Regions from separate parts of the Homo sapiens genome. Here region 2 is linked to region 1. The links come from fine-mapping of genetic effects on gene expression. A gene starts in region 1. The other region holds a variant in brackets. All regions are shown on one strand. Distances are between the middles of the regions.

Region 1 (10,013 bases):
AAGGAGAACAGTAAGTTCTCTTAAACATTCTGATACTACTTCTAAACTTAGCCAATAAACTGAGAATGAATGTTAATTTTTTAAATAAACAGGCCAGGGGCAGTGGTTCACACCTGTAATCCCAGCACTTTGAGGGGCTGAGTTGGGAGGATTGCTTGAACTCAGGAGTTCAAGAGCAGCCTGGACAAGGTGACAAATCCCTCTCTCTACAAAAAATACAAAAATTAGCTGGGTGTGGTGGTGTGTGCCTGTAGTCTCAATCCCCAGGAGGCCAAGGGGTGTGGGAGGATCCCCTGAGCCCAGAAGGTCGAGTCTGCAGTGAGCCGTGATCGCATCACTGGTCTCCAGCCTGGGTGACTCTGTTTTAGAAAAAGAAAAAAGAAAGAAAAAAAAAGCTTTCATTAACTGAAGACAGACTGAAAGCAAGAGAAACTGAAAGCAAGATAAATGAGTGGGTGGTTTTCTCAAGCACTGGTAAGTGCTGCAGAGAAAACTACAGCAACAGGAGAGTCAATGATGGGGGCAGGGTGGTGCATTTCAGATAATTTCAGATAAATTATCTTTTTCTTTTTTTTTTTTTTTTTTTGAGACAGAGTCTCACTCTGTCACCCAGGCTAGAGTACAGTGGCACGATCTTGGCTCACTGCAACCTCCGCCTCCCAGGTTCAAGCAATTCTCCTGCCTCGACCTCCTGAGTAGCTGGGACCACAGGTTTGTGCCACCACGCCCAGCTAATTTCTGTATTTTTAGTAGAGATGGGGTTTCACCATGTTGGCCAGGCTGGTCTCGAACTCCTGGCCTCAAGTGATCCACCCGGCTTGGCTTCCCAAAGTGCTGGGATTACAGGCGTGAGCCACCACGCCCAGACTCATTTCAGATAAATTAAAGGAACTTGAACACAATGGGTGACCTCAGTATCTGACTAAGGAAGACCCTTCCAGGCAGGGAGAACAGAAAGTGCCAAGACCCTGAGGCCAGAGTGTATCTGAGACAGTCAAGCAATGCGGAGGAGGTCAGAGGAGCAAGAAACAGGGAAAGCAGGATTGGCAGGAGGAAGGAAGGGAAGGGATTGGGTAGAGACAGCAGCGGAGAACAGGACCTGGATGTATTGGCAACAGGAGGAACTCACTCGTGGGGTTGTTGACATCTGAGATTGACACTGGTGTTGGGAAAATAGGAAAGGGTGGAGGTGGAGGGAGATTCTGAGTCACAGCCTGATCTAGCTCCACAGAAAATCAGCAGAAGAGAGTTCTCCTGGGTGAATGGAGAGAGAAGAGCTTATTCAGCACCCTGGAGGAGACCAGAGAGAGATAGCCAAGAACGCACAGGTTTTATTACATGCTCTGTGCAAGATCAGGTTTATTTTTTTCATTGTGCTCTCTCTCTCTCTCTCTCTCTCTCTCTGAGACAAGAGTCTAGCTGTGTTGCCCAGGCTGAAGGTCAGTGGTGCATTCGTAGCTTATTGCAGCCTCAAACTCCCAGGCTCAAGCGATCCTCCACCTCAGCTTCCTGAGTAGATGGAACCACAGGTGTGCACCACCATGCCTGGCTAATTTTTTTTTTTTTTTTTTTTTTTTTTGTAGCAATGTGGTCTCGCCACGATGCCCAGGCTGTTCCTGAACTCCCGGGCTCAAGCGATCCTCCCACATTGGCTGGGTTTACAGGCCTGAGCCACCATGCTTGGCCAGCTTTTTCAATTTAAAAAATATAGAAAGTGTTAATACAAATTAAAAAGTTATAAAATAGTGCCAATAGTATCCCATTTTTCCGAAGACAAACATAGGCAGAGAAAAATTAATGGATACTGTCTCTCTGGGCAGGGGTATTACTGGCTATTATAATCTTTTTCTTCGTGCATTCCAGAATTTACCAACTTTTCTACAAAGATCATGTAGCACAATAAGATAATAAACATAATTTTGTGTGATCTCAAAATACAGGAAGCATAGAAGCTTCCAAAACACGCCTGTACCCACCACGTGAAGAAACAGATGTTAACATTTGGTCATAATTGCTTCAGATTTCTTTCTTTTTTTTTTTTTCTGTTTTTTTTTTGGGGGGGACAGAGTCTTGCTCTGTCGCCCAGGCTGGAATGTAGTGGCATGATATTGGCTCAGTGCAACCTCCTCCTCCTGGGTTGGAGTGCAGTGGCATGATCTCAGTTCACTGCAACCTCTGCCTCCTGGGTTCAAGAGAGCACCTCCAGCTAATTTTTGTCTTTTTAGTAGAGACAAGGTTTTGCCATGTTGCCCAGGCTGGTCTGGAACACCTGACCTCAAGTGATCCGCTCACCTCGGCCTCCCAAAGTGCCAGGATTACAGGTGTGAGACACCACACCGGCTAAATAATAAGTTTTTAAAAAAACAGGAGACTGGCCAGGCATGGTGACTCACGCCTGTAATCGCAGAACTTTGGGAGGCTGAGGTGGGCAGATCACCTGAGATCGGGCATTGGAGACCAGCCTGGCCAACATGGAGAAACCCCGTCTCTACTAAAAATACAAAATTAGCCGGGCGTGGTGGTGCGTGCCTGTAATCACAGCTACTAGGGAGGCTGAGGCAGGAGAATCGCTTGTACCCGGGAGGCGGAGGTTGCGTGAGCCAAGATTGCGCCACTGCACTCCAGCCTGGGCAACCAGAATAAAACTGTCTCAAAAAAAAAAAAAACAAAAACAGGCCGGGCGCGGTGGCTCACGCCTGTAATCCCAGCACTTTGGAAGGCCAAGGTGGGTGGATCACGAGGTCAGGAGATCGAAACCATCCTGGCTAACACGGTGAAACCCCGTCTCTACTAAAAAATACAAAAAATTAGCCGGGCGCGGTGGCGGCGCCCGTAGTCCCAGCTACTCGGGGGTGCTGAGGCAGGAGAATGGCGAGAACCCGGGAGGCAGAGCTTGCAGTGAGCCGAGATCGCGCCACTGCAGTCCGGCCTGGGTGAAAGAGCGAGACTCTGTCTCAAAAAAAAAAAAACCAAACAAACAAACAAACAAAAAAACAAAACAACAGGAGAAGATGATGACAGACCTCACAAGAGCTTGGCCCCAGGGCTGAAACCCCACCCAGTGCTGTGGTTCTGCGGCTGTGGGCCCATGGGTGCCCCCAAAGGGTCCCAGGCAGATGGAGGCTCCTGGTTGGCGTGGAGGAAGGAAAAGGATGAAATCGGCTCCCCTGGCCACCCCTTCTAGCCCAGCTGCAGCTGCAGTCCGTGGGTCTGAGCCGACCCTTGGGGTTCATCGGCCCATTTTACAGATGCGGAGCCTACAGCCGGGAGGCGTGGCGGCTCTGGGCGGTGCAGGGTTCCGGGGCGGGGAGGCCGAGGCGCCCGCCCTCCCCGCCGGGGCTCACCTGGGTCAGCCCTGAGCCCTCGAGCAGGGCGGATCGGCCGCTGCCTGCTTAAAGCTGGGGCCGCCAGGAGTGCGATCGCCTGCGGATCTGCAGCTGGGCACCGGCCGCAACGCCCGCCCCGCGACGGCAGGTGAGATGCGGGCGGCCCCGTGGGAGGGGTCTCTGCCTGTCCTCGTCACCCACTTCCTTCCCGTTTGTTGCTGCTGCAGGGCTGGGAATGGGGGGGACCAAGCACTTCGCAGGGTGACCCGGGGAGATCTGTGAGCCAGTGGCCTCAGCGTTGAATGAGAGCTCTCTCCCGGGTCCGCGCTCGCAGGGACTGAAGGGACTCCTGAATGTCCGCGGGACGTGTCGCGGCGGCGCCCAGCACGGAGGAGGCAGGCAGGGAGGTGAGGAGCAGGTCAGACCGGCCGCAGGTGCAGGGCCTCCTGCCCTCCCAGGCTGCGGTCCCGTGGAGGGCCTGCAGACAGCTGCTGAGACTATGAGGGTCAGAGGTCTGTGGTCACGCGCGCTATCACCAGCTAGCTGCCTCCTGCCTGGTTCCTCCTGCAGGAATGGGAGTCTGGGGGGAGGGGAGGGTGTGGGCAGGACTTCCTGGAAAAGGGAAGCCCGTTGGTGTTTATGTGTGGGATGGAGAGAGGGCAGGGGGAGGACGGGGACACACGCGGAGTCCCCCACCCAGATGTTGTCAAACACAGCTCCCACACCAGACACGCAACCCATCCTAGAGATGCAACCCAGGCACACACACATGGACACACACAAAACTCCATCCATAGGGATTCCCACCCAGTGCCACGTGAGAACACAGGCGTGCATCGCAGACAAGCCACACAGGCCTCGCAGGCTCAGCATACATGTCTGCAGCAACACCATCAGGTACAGAGCCGAGGCCCAGGTAGGCATGCTCAGCTGCACGCAGGAAGCAAGACACACCCAGACACACACAGGTAAGCCCTTACTCAGAGAAAGAAGGTGCAGGAGATGTGTCTTGGGTAATCACAGCCACAGCCTCTCAAGTGTGCACACACACACACACTCACACTGAGATACACAGACACACAGAGATACCTGGACGTGTCAAGCCTACAGCACAAACAGGCCCCTGCAGGTCCACCCGGAGGCTGTGTGGGCCGAGGCTGCTGCACACGTGTGCCCAGATCCTCCCACCCCCACCCCAATCCCGTGTCCTGCTCCAGGGAAGTCCAGGGCTCACATGACCCAAGGGGAGGGCTCCCGGGACAGCCCTCGGAGAAACTGCATCATCCTCACTAATGATCCACTTCCTCCTCAGGGAATAAAGGCTCAGGGACCGGCAGTTCTACTCTAGAGCCCACCAGCCTCTCAGAGCCTCCGGTGACTGGCCTGTGTCTCCCCCTGGGTGAGTGCTGGGCAGGCTAGGTGGAAGGAGGGTGAAATGGGCCTGCAGGGCCATCTTGGTACAGCTCGCCCTCTCACAGACCGCGCCCCCCTTCCCTAAGCCAGCTTGTGCAGCCTTGTGCAGCTTGTGTGTCCTGAGAATTAGGGCACCAAGGGGTTCCCGCAGGGGCAGCCTGCAGCAAGCAGTCTCCCTCTATCTCAGGGCAGGCGGGGGTCTCAAGGCCTCCCTGCCCTTGTCACAGCCCGGGCCACCTATGCTTGTCTCTCTTCTCCCAGATGGACATGTGGACGGCGCTGCTCATCCTGCAAGCCTTGTTGCTACCCTCCCTGGCTGATGGTGCCACCCCTGCCCTGCGCTTTGTAGCCGTGGGTGACTGGGGAGGGGTCCCCAATGCCCCATTCCACACGGCCCGGGAAATGGCCAATGCCAAGGAGATCGCTCGGACTGTGCAGATCCTGGGTGCAGACTTCATCCTGTCTCTAGGGGACAATTTTTACTTCACTGGTGTGCAAGACATCAATGACAAGAGGTTCCAGGTCTGTGCCCAACAGAGTGGGGCAGGAGGTGGGGGCGGGCAGTGGGGAGAAGCCGCCTTACCTAGTGACCTTCCTTTGGTGAGGGCAGAGGGAAGGTGATGGGGCACCTTTGGGCGCCGGGAGCATTCAGTGTCTCCCTTATCCTGACTTGGTGGGAGGATCGGCATAGCCACTGACCCCAGGGAAGAGGCCTGCCCTATCTGTTTGCTACAGGAGACCTTTGAGGACGTATTCTCTGACCGCTCCCTTCGCAAAGTGCCCTGGTACGTGCTAGCCGGAAACCATGACCACCTTGGCAATGTCTCTGCCCAGATTGCATACTCTAAGATCTCCAAGCGCTGGTGAGCCACCCTCAGCCCTGCCTTCCGAGATCCTCACATAGCAGGGACACAGGGGCCCTGTGGCTTGAGCTGACCCTGGGACTTCTGCGCCCAAGATGTGCACCCACGACCTCTATCCCCTCCACAGGAACTTCCCCAGCCCTTTCTACCGCCTGCACTTCAAGATCCCACAGACCAATGTGTCTGTGGCCATTTTTATGCTGGACACAGTGACACTATGTGGCAACTCAGATGACTTCCTCAGCCAGCAGCCTGAGAGGCCCCGAGACGTGAAGCTGGCCCGCACACAGCTGTCCTGGCTCAAGAAACAGCTGGCGGCGGCCAGGGAGGACTACGTGCTGGTGGCTGGCCACTACCCCGTGTGGTCCATAGCCGAGCACGGGCCTACCCACTGCCTGGTCAAGCAGCTACGGCCACTGCTGGCCACATACGGGGTCACTGCCTACCTGTGCGGCCACGATCACAATCTGCAGGTGAGGGCCCTGTGGGTGGGGTGGGAGCTGGGTGAGGGGGGTCCCCATCCCAGCTGATGTCCACATGGCTGGGGTCCTCCTGCTGTTTGAGGGTCTCCTGTGGCCTTCAGAATGTCTAGACTGTCCCTCAAATCTTGCTGTCTAACCAGGAAAACACTCCAAAGCCAGAATAATATCTTCGAATTGCCAATTTCTTTCTTTCTTTCTTTTTTAAGCTCTTTTTTTTTTTTTTTTTTGGAGACAAGGTTTCATTGTTTTTCACCCAGGCTGGAGTGCAGTGGTGCAATCGGGGCTTACTGCAGCTTCAATCTCCCGGGCTCAGGTGAACCTCCCACTTCAGCCTCCAGAGTAGCTGACACTACAGGCATGGGCCACCACATGCAGCTAATTTTTGCTTTTTTTTTTTTTTTTGAGAGGGAGTGCAGTGGCACGATCTCAACTCACTGCAACCTCCGCCTCCTGGGTTCAAGCAATTCTCCTGTCTCAGCCTCCCAAGTAGCTGGGATTACAAGCATGGGCCACCAAACCTTGCTAATTTTTATATTTTAGTAGAGACGGGGTTTCACCATGTTGGCCAGGCTGATCTCGAACTTCTGACCTCAAGTGATCTGCCCGCCTCGGCCTCCCAAAGTGCTGGGATTATAGGCATGAGCCACTGCACCTGGCCCTTGCGCATTTTTTTTGTAGAGGCAAGGTCTCACTATGTTGCCCAGGCTGGTCTCAAATTCCTGGGCTCAAGCAATCCACCCCCTCAGCCTCCCAAAGTGCTGGGATTACAGGCATGAGCCACCACACCTGGCCACCAATTTCTTACTAAGTGCTCTACCTATGAAATAGGATTAATACACTCCTAAAAGTCAGGAAATTGAAGCCAGGAGGGGTTACATACCTCAAGGTGACTCTGTGGTTAGGGCCAGATCGAGCCCTGGACCTTAGGCAGGGCTCTGCTCAAAGCTGGGTCTCCACTGACCCCTTGTCCTCCATCCTCAGTACCTGCAAGATGAGAATGGCGTGGGCTACGTGCTGAGTGGGGCTGGGAATTTCATGGACCCCTCAAAGCGGCACCAGCGCAAGGTCCCCAACGGCTATCTGCGCTTCCACTATGGGACTGAAGACTCACTGGGTGGCTTTGCCTATGTGGAGATCAGCTCCAAAGAGATGACTGTCACTTACATCGAGGCCTCGGGCAAGTCCCTCTTTAAGACCAGGCTGCCGAGGCGAGCCAGGCCCTGAACTCCCATGACTGCCCAGCTCTGAGGCCCGATCTCCACTGTTGGGTGGGTGGGCCCTGCCGGGACCCTGCTCACAGGCAGGCTTTTCCTCCAACCTGTGGCGCTGCAGCAGGGCAGGAAGGGGAAACACAGCTGATGAACTGTGGTGCCACATGACCCTTGTGGCACAGATGCCCACGTATGTGAAACACACATGGACATGTGTCCCAGCCACAGTGTTATGCTCTGTGGCTGGCTCACCTTTGCTGAGTTCCGGGGTGCAATGGGGGAGGGAGGGAGGGAAAGCTTCCTCCTAAATCAAGCATCTTTCTGTTACTGATGTTCAATAAAAGAATAGTTGCCAAGGCTGAACCAGTGCCACTGGTGTGTTATGTTCTCCTGGTTAGAGTGGCTGGGCTCCCCTGAGCTGCTGTTCCTTGCCTCCATCTCTTACCCCATCCATGACCAAGTTGCCTTATCCATGGATGTGATTATAAAACCCGGCCAGGCACGGTGGCTCACACCTGTAATCCCAGCACTTTGGGAGGCCGAGGTGGGCGGATCACGAGGTCAGGAGATCGAGACCATCCTGACTAACATGGTGAAACCCCGTCTCTACTAAAACTACAAAAAAATTAGCCAGGCGTGGCGGCGGGTGCCTGTAGTCCCAGCTACTTGGGAGGCTGAGGCAGGAGAATAGTGTGAACCCAGGAGGCGGAGCTTGCAGTGAGCCAAGATAGCGCCACTGCACTCCTGCCTGGGTGAAAGAGCGAGACTCCATCTCAAAAAAATAAAAAATAAAAAAAAAATAAAATCCAAGCAGAGGCCAGGCTCAGTGGTTCACATCTGTAATCCCAGCACTTTGGGAGGCCAAAGCGGGTGGATTATTTGAGGTCAGGAGTTCAAGATCAGCCTGGCCAGCATAGTGAAACCCCATGTCCACTAAAAATACAAAAAGTTAGTCAGGCTTGCTGGCGAGTGCCTGTAATCCCAGCTACTTGGGAGTCTGAGGCAGGAGAATCACTTGCATCTGGGAGGTGGAGGCTGCAGTGAGTCAAGATTGCGCCACTGCACTCCAGCCTGGGCAACAAGAGTTAAACTCTGCCTGAAAAAAAAAAATTGGCCAGTTGTGGTGGCAGGAGCCTATGGTCCTAGCTACTCAGGAGGCTGAGGCAGGAGAATTGCTTGAACCCAGGAGGCGGAGGTTGCAATGAGCTGAGATTGTGCCACTGTACTCCAGCCTGGGTGACAGAGCAAGAATCTGTCTCAAAAAAAATAAGTAAATAAAATAGGCCAGGCACGATGGCTCACACCTGTAATGCCAGCACTTTGCAAGGCCTAGGTGGTCGGATCACTTGAGGTCAGAAGTTCAAGACCAGCCTGGCCATCATGGTGAAACCCCATCTCTACTAAAAATACAAAACTTATCTAGGCGTGGTGACACATGACTGTAATCCCAGCTACTTGGGAGGCTGAGGCGAGAGAATCACTTGAGCCTAGGGGGTTTGCGGGTAAAGGGGGTGGAGAGGTGAGGGCGGAGATTGCAGTGAGCTGAGATTGTGCCACTGCACTCCAGCCTGGGTGATAGAGCAAGACTCTGTCTCAAAAAAAAAATTAATTCAATAAAATCCAAGCAGAAAGAAGGGTACAACATAAAGCAAGTCTTCCTCCACCCCAGGGGCAACTAATATTAATCATTTTCTTTCTCTATATAGTCTATGCCTCCATAATCAAAACATTCCCTTTATTATTTTCTTTTTTTTTTCTTTTTTTTTTTTTTTGAGATGGAGTCTCACTCTGTCACCAGGCTGGAGTGCAGTGGCGTGAGCTCGGCTCGCTGAAACCTCCAACTCCCAGATTCAAGCAATTCTCCTGGCTCAGCCTCCTGAGTAGCTGGGATTATAGGCACGCGCCACCACGCCCAGCTAATTTTTTTTTTTTTTTTTTTTTTTTTTGAGATGGAGTCTTGCTCTGTCGCCCAGGCTGGAGTGCAGCGGCGTGATCTCGGCTCACTGCAAGCTCTGCCTCCCGGGTTCACACCATTCTCCTGCCTCAGCCTCCCAAGTAGCTGGGATTACAGGCGTCTGCCACCACACCCGGCTCGTTTTTTGTATTTTTAAATAGAGATGGGGTTTCATCGTGTTAGCCAGGATGGTCTCAATCTCCTGACCTCGTGATCCGCCTGCCTCAGCCTCCCAAAGTGCTGGGATTACAGGAGTGAGCCACCGCGCCTGGCAATTTTTGTATTTTTAGTAGAGATGGGGTTTCACCATGTTGGCCAGGATGGTCCCAATCTCCTGACCTCATGACCTGCCCGCCTCAGCCTCCCAAAGTGTTGGGATTACAGGCGTGAGCCGCCGTGCCCGGCCTATTATTTCTTTAGGGAGAGGGGTCTTGCTATATTGTCCAGGCTGGAGTGCAGTGGTGCAATCATAGCTCCCTGCAGCCTCAAACTCCTGGGCTCAAGAAATCCTCCCACCCTAGCCTCTCAAGTAGCTAGGACTACAGGCACGCACCACCACTCCTAACTAATTTTTAGATTTTTTTTTTTTGTAGAGATGGGAGTCTTGTTCTGTTGCCCAAACCGGTCTTGTACTCCTGGGCTCAAGCAATCCTCCTGCCTCAGCCTCCGAAAGTGTTGGGATTACAGGCATGAGCTATTGCTTCCAGACTGTTTTTCAGAGACAGAGTTTTGCTATGTTGCCCAGGCTGGTCTTGAGCTCCTGG
Region 2 (10,013 bases), 980 kb after region 1:
GTTCCCTGCAGCCTTGACAGTTATTGTGGAAAAAATGGGTGAAAACAGGCCGGGTGCGGAGGCTCACGCCTGTAATCCCAGCACTTTGGGAGGCCGAGGCGGGCGGATCACTTGAAGTCGGGAGTTCGAGACCAGCCTGACCAACATGGAGAATCCCTGTCTTTACTAAAAATACAAAAAATTAGCCTGGTGTGGTGGCACATGCCTGTAATCCCAGCTACTCTGGAGGCTGAGGAGGAGAATCGCTTGAACCCAGGAGGTGGAGGTTGCGGTGAGCTGAGATGACGCTATTGCACTCCAAACTGGGCAACAGAACTGGGCAAAAAGCGAAACTCTGTCTCAAAAAGAAAAAAAAAAAGAAAGAAAAATGGGTGAAAACATCACTGCACTCCAGCCTGGGTGACAGAGTGAGACCCTGTCTCAAAAAAAAAAAAAAAAAGAAAGAAAGAAAGAAAAAAGAATAAAGCACGAAGTCATCAGGGAAATGTAAATCAAAACCTCGATGAGATATCATTGCACACCCACCTGAATAGCTAAAATTAAAAAGACTGGTCGAACCAAGTGTTGAGGAAGATGGGAAGCATATGGGGGCTCTCCTACACTGTTGGTGAGAATGTAAAATGCCACAACCAGTTGGAAAACGATCTGGCAGTTTCTTGCAAAGTTAATACCCTAGAAATTGCACTTCTAGGTATATACCCAAGAAAAAGTATAAGTGAAGAAAAGAAAAACCCACAGACACATTCATATAAATGTTCATGATAGCCTTATAGTATCCTTATTCGTAGTGGGCAAAAAAACTAGGAGCAGCCCAAATGCCCATTAACAGATCATTGGTGAAGCAAACCATGGTGGGTTTCACCCATACCATGGGATTCTCCTTAGTGATGAGGAATGAATGTTTTCTTCTTTCTTTTTTTAGGGACAGGATCTTGCTGTATTGCCCAGGCTGGATTGCGATGGTGCAGTCATAGCTGACTGAAGCCCTGACCTCCTCAGCTCAAGTGATCCTCCTGCCTCAGCCTCCCGTTGCTGGGACTACAGGCACACACTATCATGCCTGGCTAATTTCTTTCTTTCTTTCTTTTTTTGACAAAGTTTCACTCTTGTTGCTCAGGCTGGAGTGCAATGGTGCAATGGTGTGATCTCAGCTCACCGCAACCTCCGTCTCCCAAGTTCAAGTGATTCTCCTGCCTTAGTCTCTGAGTAGCCGGGATTACAGGCATGCACCACCACGCCTGGCTAATTTTGTATTTTTAGTAGAGACGGGGTTTCTCTATGTTGGTCGGGCTGGTCTGGAACTCCCGACCTCAGGTGATCCGCCCCCCTCAGCCTCCAAAAGTGCTGGGATTATAGGCATGAGCCACCGCACCTGGACATACTCGGCTAATTTTTTAAATTTTTGTGGAGATGAGGGTCTCCCTATGGGTGCCCAGGCTGGTCTCAAGTGATCCTTCTGCCTCAGCCTCCTAGAGTGCTGAGATTACAGGTGTGAGCCACAGCGCCTGGTCCAGGAATAAACTATTGATACAGGCAAAAATATGGATGAATCTCTCCCCAAAAAGCATAATGTTGTGTGAAAGAAACCACACACTTTTTTCTGAAGTTCAAGAACAGGCATAGCTAATCAACCTATAGTAACAGAACATATATCAGTGGTTGACTTTTGGGGTAGTAATAACTACTGGGATGATAGGAGCAGCTTCTGGGCACTGGAAACAGAATTGTAGTTACATAGCTTAGTTTAGTTTGTGAATACTTGACCTTCTCCCCCGTACTCTGCCTGCCTTTTTTTTCTGAGACAGAATCTTGCTCTGTTGCCCAAGCTGGAGTACAGTGGCAATTTTTGTATTTTAGTAGAGACGGGGTTTCGCCATGTTGCCCAGGCTGGTCTCGAACTCCTGATCTCAGGTGATCCACCAACCTCAGCCTCCCAAAGTGCAGGGATTACAGGTGTAAGCCGCTGTGCCCAACCGACTTCTGCCCTTTTAAAATATGTGTTGCTGGCCCGGCACGGTGGCTCACGCCTGTAATCCCAGCACTTTGGGAAGCTGAGTTGAGTGGATCACAAGGTCAGGAGTTCAAGACCAGCTTGACTAACTTGGTGAAACCTGGTCCCTACTAAAAATACAAAAAAAAAAAAAAATTAGACGGGCGTGGCGGCGGGCGCCTGTAATCCCAGCTCCTCAGGAGGCTGAGGCAGAGAATTGCTTGACCCCGGGAGGCAGAGGTCGCAGTGAGCCAAGATTGCACCACTGCACTCCGGCCTGGGTGAAAGAGTGAGACAGCATCTCAAATAAATAAATAAATAAAATAAAATATGTGTTGCTCTTCCTGGTCAGGTCGCCAGCATCATGCTCTTCTATTCCTTTTTTCAAGTCCCTTGTGGGCATGAATGTGGTCATGGAACTCAAGAAAGACCTGAACATCTGTGGCACCCTCCATTCGGTGGATCAGTATCTCAACATCAAATGAGCTGACATCAGTATCACACACCTTGAGAAATATCCTCACATTTTATCAGTGAAGAACTTCTAGGCTGGGTGCAGTGGCTCACACCTGTAACCCCAGCACTTTGGGAGGCCAAGGCAGGTGGATCACCTGAGGTCAGGAGTTTGAGACCAGCCTGGCCAACATGGCAAAACCCCATCTCTACTAAAATACAAAACTTAGCCGGATGTGGTGGCGGGCGCCTGTATTCACAGCTACTCGGGAAGCTGAGGCAGGAGAGTTGCTGGAACCCGGGAGGTGGAGGCTGCAGTGAGCTGAAATCATGCCACTGCACTCCAGCCTGGGTGACAGAGCGAGACTCTGTCTCAAAAAAAGTTTTTTAAAAAGGACTGTTTCATTCCGGGCTCAGTGGTCCCATACGTGCAGTTGCCAGCAAAGGAGGTCGACACACAGTTGCCATAGCATGCAGCAAGGAAGAAAGCCAGCAGTAGTAAGTGACAGCCCCTCCTTCTCTTCCCTTCCCTCTTCCTTGGTGACCTGTAACTCCAAGTCCCAGCCCAGGACCCCTAACTCCCAATACTTGAAGGGGTTTTGTTTGTTTTTTTACTAATGATGGTTTTGTGGGTTTTTTTTAAAAAAGGGAAGAGTGGATAAGGGGAATAATAGGGAACAGGTATCCTTTGTTGAGAAAGGGAGAAGAGGTAGGCTGGGAAACTCCAAAGCCTTCCCAGTCCCCAGCACCTGCCGTTCTCACTACCTCCCTGGAGATGGTGGGAGGGAGGGCTTCCTAGGTCTTTCCAGGGTACCATGTGATTCACCTGGGGGTTGAAAGGAATCTGTCCCATATTGGGAATAACATTTATGATGCAAATATATATGTGTGTTTGTATACATAATAAATAAAAAAGTTACATTTCAAAATGAGAATTTTTAAAATAGTTTAAGAAAAAAGGTGGTGGTCCTGCAGATTATAATAAGAGTGACTGTTTACAGCCAGGAGTGGTGGCTCACATCTGTGATCCCAGCACTCTGGGAGGCAGGAGGGTCACTTGAGGACAGGAGTTCAAGATTAGCCTGGACAACACGATGAAAATCTGTCTCTAAGGCCAGACGCAGTGGCTCTCACCTGTAATCCCAGCACTTTGGGAGGCCGAGGCGGGCGGATCACCTGAGGTCGGGAGTTCGAGACCAGCCCGACCAACATGGAGAAATCCCGTCTTTACTAAAAATACAAAATTAGCCGAGTGTGGTGGCACATGCATGTAATCCCAGCTACTTGGGAGGCTGAAGCAGGAGAATCACTTGAACCTGGGAGTCAGAGGTTGCAGTGATCCAAGAGTGCACCATTGCACACCAGCCTGGGTGACAGAACGAGACTCGGTCTCAAAAAAAAAAAAAAGGAAAGAAAGAGTGAATGTTTATAGAAAGCTTAGTCAGTGTCAGACAAGGTATTAAATGCTTTATATATTTTTTTAACTCTTTTTCTTTTTTTTGAAATAGAGACCAGGTCTCATTAGCCTCAATCGATCTGCCCATCTTGGCCTCTTGAAGTGCTGGGATTACAAGCATGAGCCACCATGCTGGCCAAGCACCTTTTTTTTTTGAACCAAGGCTGCTGGAGGGCAGTGGCGCGATCTTGGCTCACCCAGTAAAGTGCTCTCTGTGTGTGTATGTGTGTGTGTGTGTGTGTATATAGTTGTTGTTGTTTGTTTTAGTTTTTGAGATGGAGTCTCACTCTGTCGCCAAGCTGGAGTGCAGTGGCGTGATCTCAGCTCACTGCACCATCTGCCTCCCGGGTTCAAGCAATTCTCCTGCCTCAGCCTTCTGAGTAGCTGGGATTACAGCACCCACCACCACGCTCAGCTAGTTTTTTGTATTTTTAGTGAAGAACGGGTTTCACTGTCTTAGCCATGATGGTGTCAATCTCCTGACCTCATGATCCACCGCCTCGGCCTCCCAAAGTGCTGGGATTACAGGCGTGAGACACCGCGTCTGGCCCAAGCACTCTGTATTAAATCATTATAATCATTTTCCAATTGGGGAAAGTGACCCAGAGAGGTGAAGTAATTTACCCACAGTAACATAAT[G/A]AGCCCGTGGCTCTGCAAGGATCTGAACCCAGGGAGTCCGACTTTACACCCAAGACACACTTCCTTCCCCTTCAACCACATGCTTTCCGGAGTAGCGTCCAGGTCATATTGTTGAGTGATAATAGCAAGTTGTATTTTTTTTTTTTTATTTAAGACAGAGTCTCTCTCTGTCGCCCAGGCTGGAGTGCAGTGGTGCGAGCTCAGCTCACTGAAACCTCCTTCTCTTGGGTTCAAGTGATTTGTGTGCCTCAGCCTCTGGAGTAGCTGGGATTTCAGGTACGCACCACCATGCCCAGCTTAGTCTATATACATATATATATATATATATATAGTTGTTGTTGCTTGTTTGTTTTGTTTTGTTTTGTTTTTGAGACAGATTCTTGTTCTGTCACCCAGGCTCGAGTGCAGTGGCATGATCTCGGCTCACTGCAACCTCTGCCTCCTGGGTTCAAGCAATTCTCCTGCCTCAGCCTCCCGAGTAGCTGGGATTACAGGTGTCCGCCAGCATACCTGGCTAATTTTTTGTATTTTTAGTAGAGACAGGATTTTATCATGTTGGCCAGGCTTGTCTCAAACTCCTGACCTCAGGTGATTCACCTGCCTTAGCCTCCAAAGTGCAGGGATTACAGGCGTGAGCCACCACACCTGGCCAGTTTTTATATTTTTAGTAGAGACAGATTTTTTGCCATGTTGCCCAGGCTGCTCTTGAACTCTTGGCCTCAAGTGCCCCACCCGCCTCTGCCTCCCAAAGTTCTGGGATTACAGGTGAGAGCCACTGTGCCCATCCACAAGTTGTATAGTCTTATATGGTATGGGAGAAAGAGAGAGAAAGAGGGCAACACGCGCACACACACACACACACACACACACACACACAAACACACACACACACCCCCCTGCATGTAACCCAGCTGAAAAAGATCTGAATCAGCCAGTGGTTATGAGAGGGACGAAGATTGGGGTATGGGGGTGTCACAGGGGACTTTTTTTTTCTTTTTCTCTCACATCTCTGCTGGGAGGAACTTTTGCCTTTTCTTTAGTTTTGTTTTCTATTTTGTTTTCTCAGGAACTGGCTCAGCACAGTATTTTCTTAAGATAGGTTCTTGCTTTGTCACCGAGGCTGGAGTGCAGTGGTGCAACCATAGCTCACTGCAGCCTCAATCTTCTGGGCTCCAGTGATCCTCCCACCTCAGACTCCTGAGTAGCTGGGCATGGTGGCTTACACTTGTAATCCCAGCACATTGGGAGGCTGAGATGGGTGGATCACTTGAGGTCAGGAGTTTGAGACCAGCCTAGTCAACATGGCGAAACCCAGTCTCTACCAAAAATACAAAAATTAGCCCAGCGTGGTGGCAGATGCCTGTAATCCCAGCTACTTGGGAGGCTGAGGCAGGAGAATCACTTGAACTAGGAGAAGGAGGAGGTTGCAATTAGCTGAGATTGCGCCACTGCACTCCAGCCCCTGGGCGACAAAGTGAGAATCCGTCTCAAAAAAAAAAGAAAAAAAAGCTGGGCGCGGCGGCTCACGCCTATAATCCCAGCACTTTGGGAGGCTGAGGCAGGCACATCTCCAGGTCAGGAGTTCCAGACCAGCTTGGCCAAGAGACCAGCCTGGCCAATATGGCGAAACCCTGCCTCTACTAAAAATACAAAAATTAGCCGGGTGTGGTGGCAGGCACCTGTAGTCCCAGCTACTCGGGAGGCTGAGGCAGGAGAATGGCATGAACCCGGGAGGCAGAGCTTGCAGGGAGCTGAGATCGTGCCACTGCACTCCAGCCTGGGCAACAGAGCGAGACTCTGTCTCAAAAAAAAATAATAATAAAATAATAAAAGTAAATGAATAAATAAAATATAAAAAAATAAAATTAGCTGGGCGTGGTGGGGGGCGCCTGTAATCCCAGCTACTCAGGAGGCTGAGGCAGGAGAACTGCTTGAACCTAGGAGATGGAGGCTGCAGTGAGCCGAGATTGTGCCACTGCACTCAAGCCTCGGTGACGGTGAGACTCCATCTCAAAATAAATAAAAAAAAGAAAAGAAGAAGAAGAAGGAGGAGGAGGAGAAGGAAAAGGAGAAGAAGAAGAAGAAGAAGAGTGGGTGCCAGGGGTTGGGAGAGGGAGAAGGAGTGTTTCATAGGGAGAAGTTTTCCTTTGGGAAGATGAGAAAGTTCTGGAGATGGATGGTGGTGACGGTTGCATGGCCATTAATGTGCTTAATGCCACCGAACTGTGCACTTCAAAATGGCTAAGGTGGCCAGCTGTGGTGGCACGTGTCTATAGTCTCAGCTACTTGGGAGGCTGAGGTGGGAGGATGGCTTGAGACAGCAGGAGAGGAACTGAAATTCGGGCAGTTAGGGTGTCTGGGACAGCAGGTTCAGGTGGTGTCCTGTGGCAGAGGTCAGCAGGTGTCTGACTGTGCCAGGTGGGGGTGGTTGGAGGGCAATGGGGGGCCATAGAGGATGTGAGAGTGAGAGTCAAAAAATAATTGTGAGTTTCAGAGAGATCTCTTTAGTGGTGTGGAGAAGGGATTGTGGACAGGGCCTAGAGGCGTGGTCCCTGGGAGAGGCTGGAGGAGGCTCCAGGCATCCAGAAGGAACTAGGACAAGGCCACAGCCTCAGGGGGATGGGGGAGGCCGCCACTGAGGTGGGGCAGGCGGGGCAGGCAGAGCCAGCACACAGAGCTGCTCTGTTCTCTGACCCCAAGTAAGCTTTTGGGCTCATGAATTTTTCATGCCAAACAAGCCTGGAGTTTCAGATTCCAGGGCACTGGGCCCAGGCTTTCGGGTTCTGCTTACTGCCTGAAAACATCTCAGGGCCCCAGGAGATGAGTTCTTCATTTTGTTGTTGTTGTTGTTTTTGAGACAGAGTCTCACTCTATTGCCCCAGGCTGGAGTGCAATGGCGCAATCTTGGCTCACTGCAACCTCTGCCTCCCAGTTTCAAGTGATTCTCCTGCCTCAGTCTCCTGAGTAGGTGGGATTACAGGCATGTGCTACCACCCCCGGCTAATTCTGTATTTTTAGTCCAGACAGGGTTTCACCATTTTGGCCAGGCTGGTCTCAAACTCCTGACCTCAGGTGATCCACCCACCTCAGCCTCCCGAAGTGCTAGGATTACAGGCGTGAGCCACCACGCCCGGCTGCCAGGAGACGAGTTATTTTGAGGTTCAGCAATGTCTAGGCTGGGGTGAGGGCCTAGCAGTGACTGCATCCCCCTAGGTGACCTTCTCAGCAGGCAGTTGCTGGGAGCATGAAGGACCACCCCCCTCCTTTGGGCAGAAGCAACATAAAGTCTTGGGCTTTAGGCTGGGCGAGATGGCTCACGCCTATAATCCCAGCACTGTGGGAGGCCGAGGCGGGTGGACCACTTAAGTCCACAAGTTGGAGACCAGCCTGGGCGACATTGTGAAACCTGTCTGTACCAAAAAGTATAAAAATTAGCTGGATGTGGTGGTCACGCACCTGTGGTCCCAGCTGTGCAGGAGGCTGGGGTGGGAGAATTGCTTGATTGCTTGAACCTGGGGAGGTGGAGGTTGCAGTGAGCTGAGATCACACCACTGCACTCCAGCCTGGGTGACAGAGACCCTGCCTCAAAAATAATAATAATAATAATAATAATAATCAGGGCCAGGTGCGATGGCTCACCCCTGTAATCCCAGCACTTTGGGAGGCTGAGGTGGGTGGATCACCTGAGGTCGGGAGTTTGAGACCAGCCTGACCAACATGGAGAAACCTTGTCTGTACTAAAAATACAAAATTAGCCAGGCATGGTGGTGCATGCCTGTAATCCCAGCTACTTGGGAGGCTGAGGCAGGAGAATCACTTGAACCTGGGAGGCGGAGGGTATGGTGAGCCAAGGTTGCACCATTGCCCTCCAGCCTGGGCAACAAGAGTGAAATTCCATCTCAAAAAACAAAAAAGTCCGGGTGCAGTGGCTCAAACCTGTAATCCCAGCACTTTGGGAGGCCAACGTGCAATGCGGGCGGATCACAAGGTCAGGAGTTTGAGACCGTCCTGGCCAAAATGGCGAACCCCCATCTCTACTAAAAATACAAAAATTAGCCAGGCATAGTGGCACAAACCTGTGGTCCCAGCTACTTGGGAAGCTGAGACAGAAGAATCACTCGAACCCGTGAGGCGGAGGTTGCAGTGAGTCAAGATCACACCACTCCACTCCAGCCTGGGCGACAGAGCGAGACTCTGTCTCAAAACAAAAAACAAAACAAAACAAAAAAACCTTGTGCTTTCCAGAGCTCAAATCCCAGCTCTGCTTCTTCTGACTGGATGACATTGTACAAATCACTTACTCTCTCAAGGCCTCAGTTTCCCTATCTGTCAAATGAAGATAATAGAGTTGGGGGAGGTGACTCGTGTCTGTAATCTCAGTGTTTTGGAAGGCTGAGGTGGGAGGACAGCTTGAGGCCAGAAGCTCAAGACCAGCTTGAGCAACGTAGCGAGACCCCATCTCTACAAAAAATTTAAAAATTGGGCAGGCACGGTGGCTCACGCCTGTAATCCCAGCACTTTGAGAGGCTGAGGTGTGCGGATCACGAGGTCAGGAGATCGAGACCATCTTGGCTAACACGGTGAAACCCCGTCTCTACTAAAAATACAAAAAAATTAGCCGGGCTTGATGGCGGATGCCTGTAGTCCCAGCTACTCCGGAGGCTGAGGCAGGAGAAGGGTGTGAACCTGTGAGGCGGAAGTTGCAGTGAGCCGAGATTGCGCCACTGCACTCCAGCCTGGGCGACAGAGCAAGACTCTGTCTCAAAAAAAAAAAAAAAAAAAATTTAAAAATTAGCTGGGAGTGGTGTTGCTCACCTGTAGTCCCAGCTACTGGAGAGGCCTAGGTGAGAGGATCTCTTGAGTTCAGAAGGTTGAGGCTGCAGTGAGCCGTGTTTGCACCACTGCACCGCAGCCTGGGCGACAAAGCAAGTCCTTGTCTCAAATAAATAAAAAAAAAAAATAGGCTTCTGTAATTCAAGGGGCTGTCTTGAGGATTCCTGCATGGGCGACATTTAGGGCCACCCTCACTTATGGTGAGCACCATTTAAGCCAGAGTTAGTGTTACTAATAGTAATATTTGCATCCAGCAATATAGCAAAGCAGGCGGAAGCAGGCTGGGACCAGATTCTTAAATCCCGGGACTCAGATTCGAATTCTGGGTCAACTGCCTCCTGGCTCTGGGGCCGTGGGCTTGGGCAGGTGCCTTCACTTCTCTGTGTCCCTGCTTCTACCTTTATAAGATGGCACGAAGGAGACTTGTGCCAGATGATAACTTTTTATTTTTCATTCTATTTATTTATTTTCTTGAGACGGAGTCTCACTCTGTCACCCAGGCTGGAGTGCAGTGGTGCCATCTCGGCTCACTATAACCTCCGCCTCCCCAGTTCAAGTGATTCTTCTGCCTCAGCCTCCCAAGTAGCTGGAATTACAGGCATGCGTCACCACGCCCGGCTAATTTTTGTATTTTTAGTGGAG

The links.
Region 2: its variant is fine-mapped to the expression of ACP5 in breast (GTEx, PIP 0.98).

What each region holds. Positions count from the first base shown.
Region 1 is chr19:11,572,305-11,582,317 of GRCh38, reverse strand. ACP5 (acid phosphatase 5, tartrate resistant) reads left to right here and starts at 4,673. Exons shown (of 5, transcript NM_001611.5): 1 at 4,673-4,725; 2 at 5,001-5,261; 3 at 5,475-5,602; 4 at 5,730-6,075; 5 at 7,066-7,658. The coding sequence starts at 5,001. The coding sequence ends at 7,308. It overlaps LOC124904638 (a long non-coding RNA gene), which reads right to left and starts at 7,069. Exons shown (of 2, transcript XR_007067140.1): 1 at 6,965-7,069. RefSeq lists silencers at 34-199, 3,214-3,403 and enhancers at 335-534, 4,354-4,493, 3,963-4,574, 4,575-5,187.
Region 2 is chr19:10,591,309-10,601,321 of GRCh38, reverse strand. It overlaps the pseudogene LSM2P1. Among named protein-coding and RNA genes, the nearest start is that of AP1M2, 9.0 kb to the right of the region's middle. RefSeq lists enhancers at 5,490-5,679, 7,154-7,678, 8,205-8,729. The variant G/A (reference allele first, on the strand shown) is at 4,539.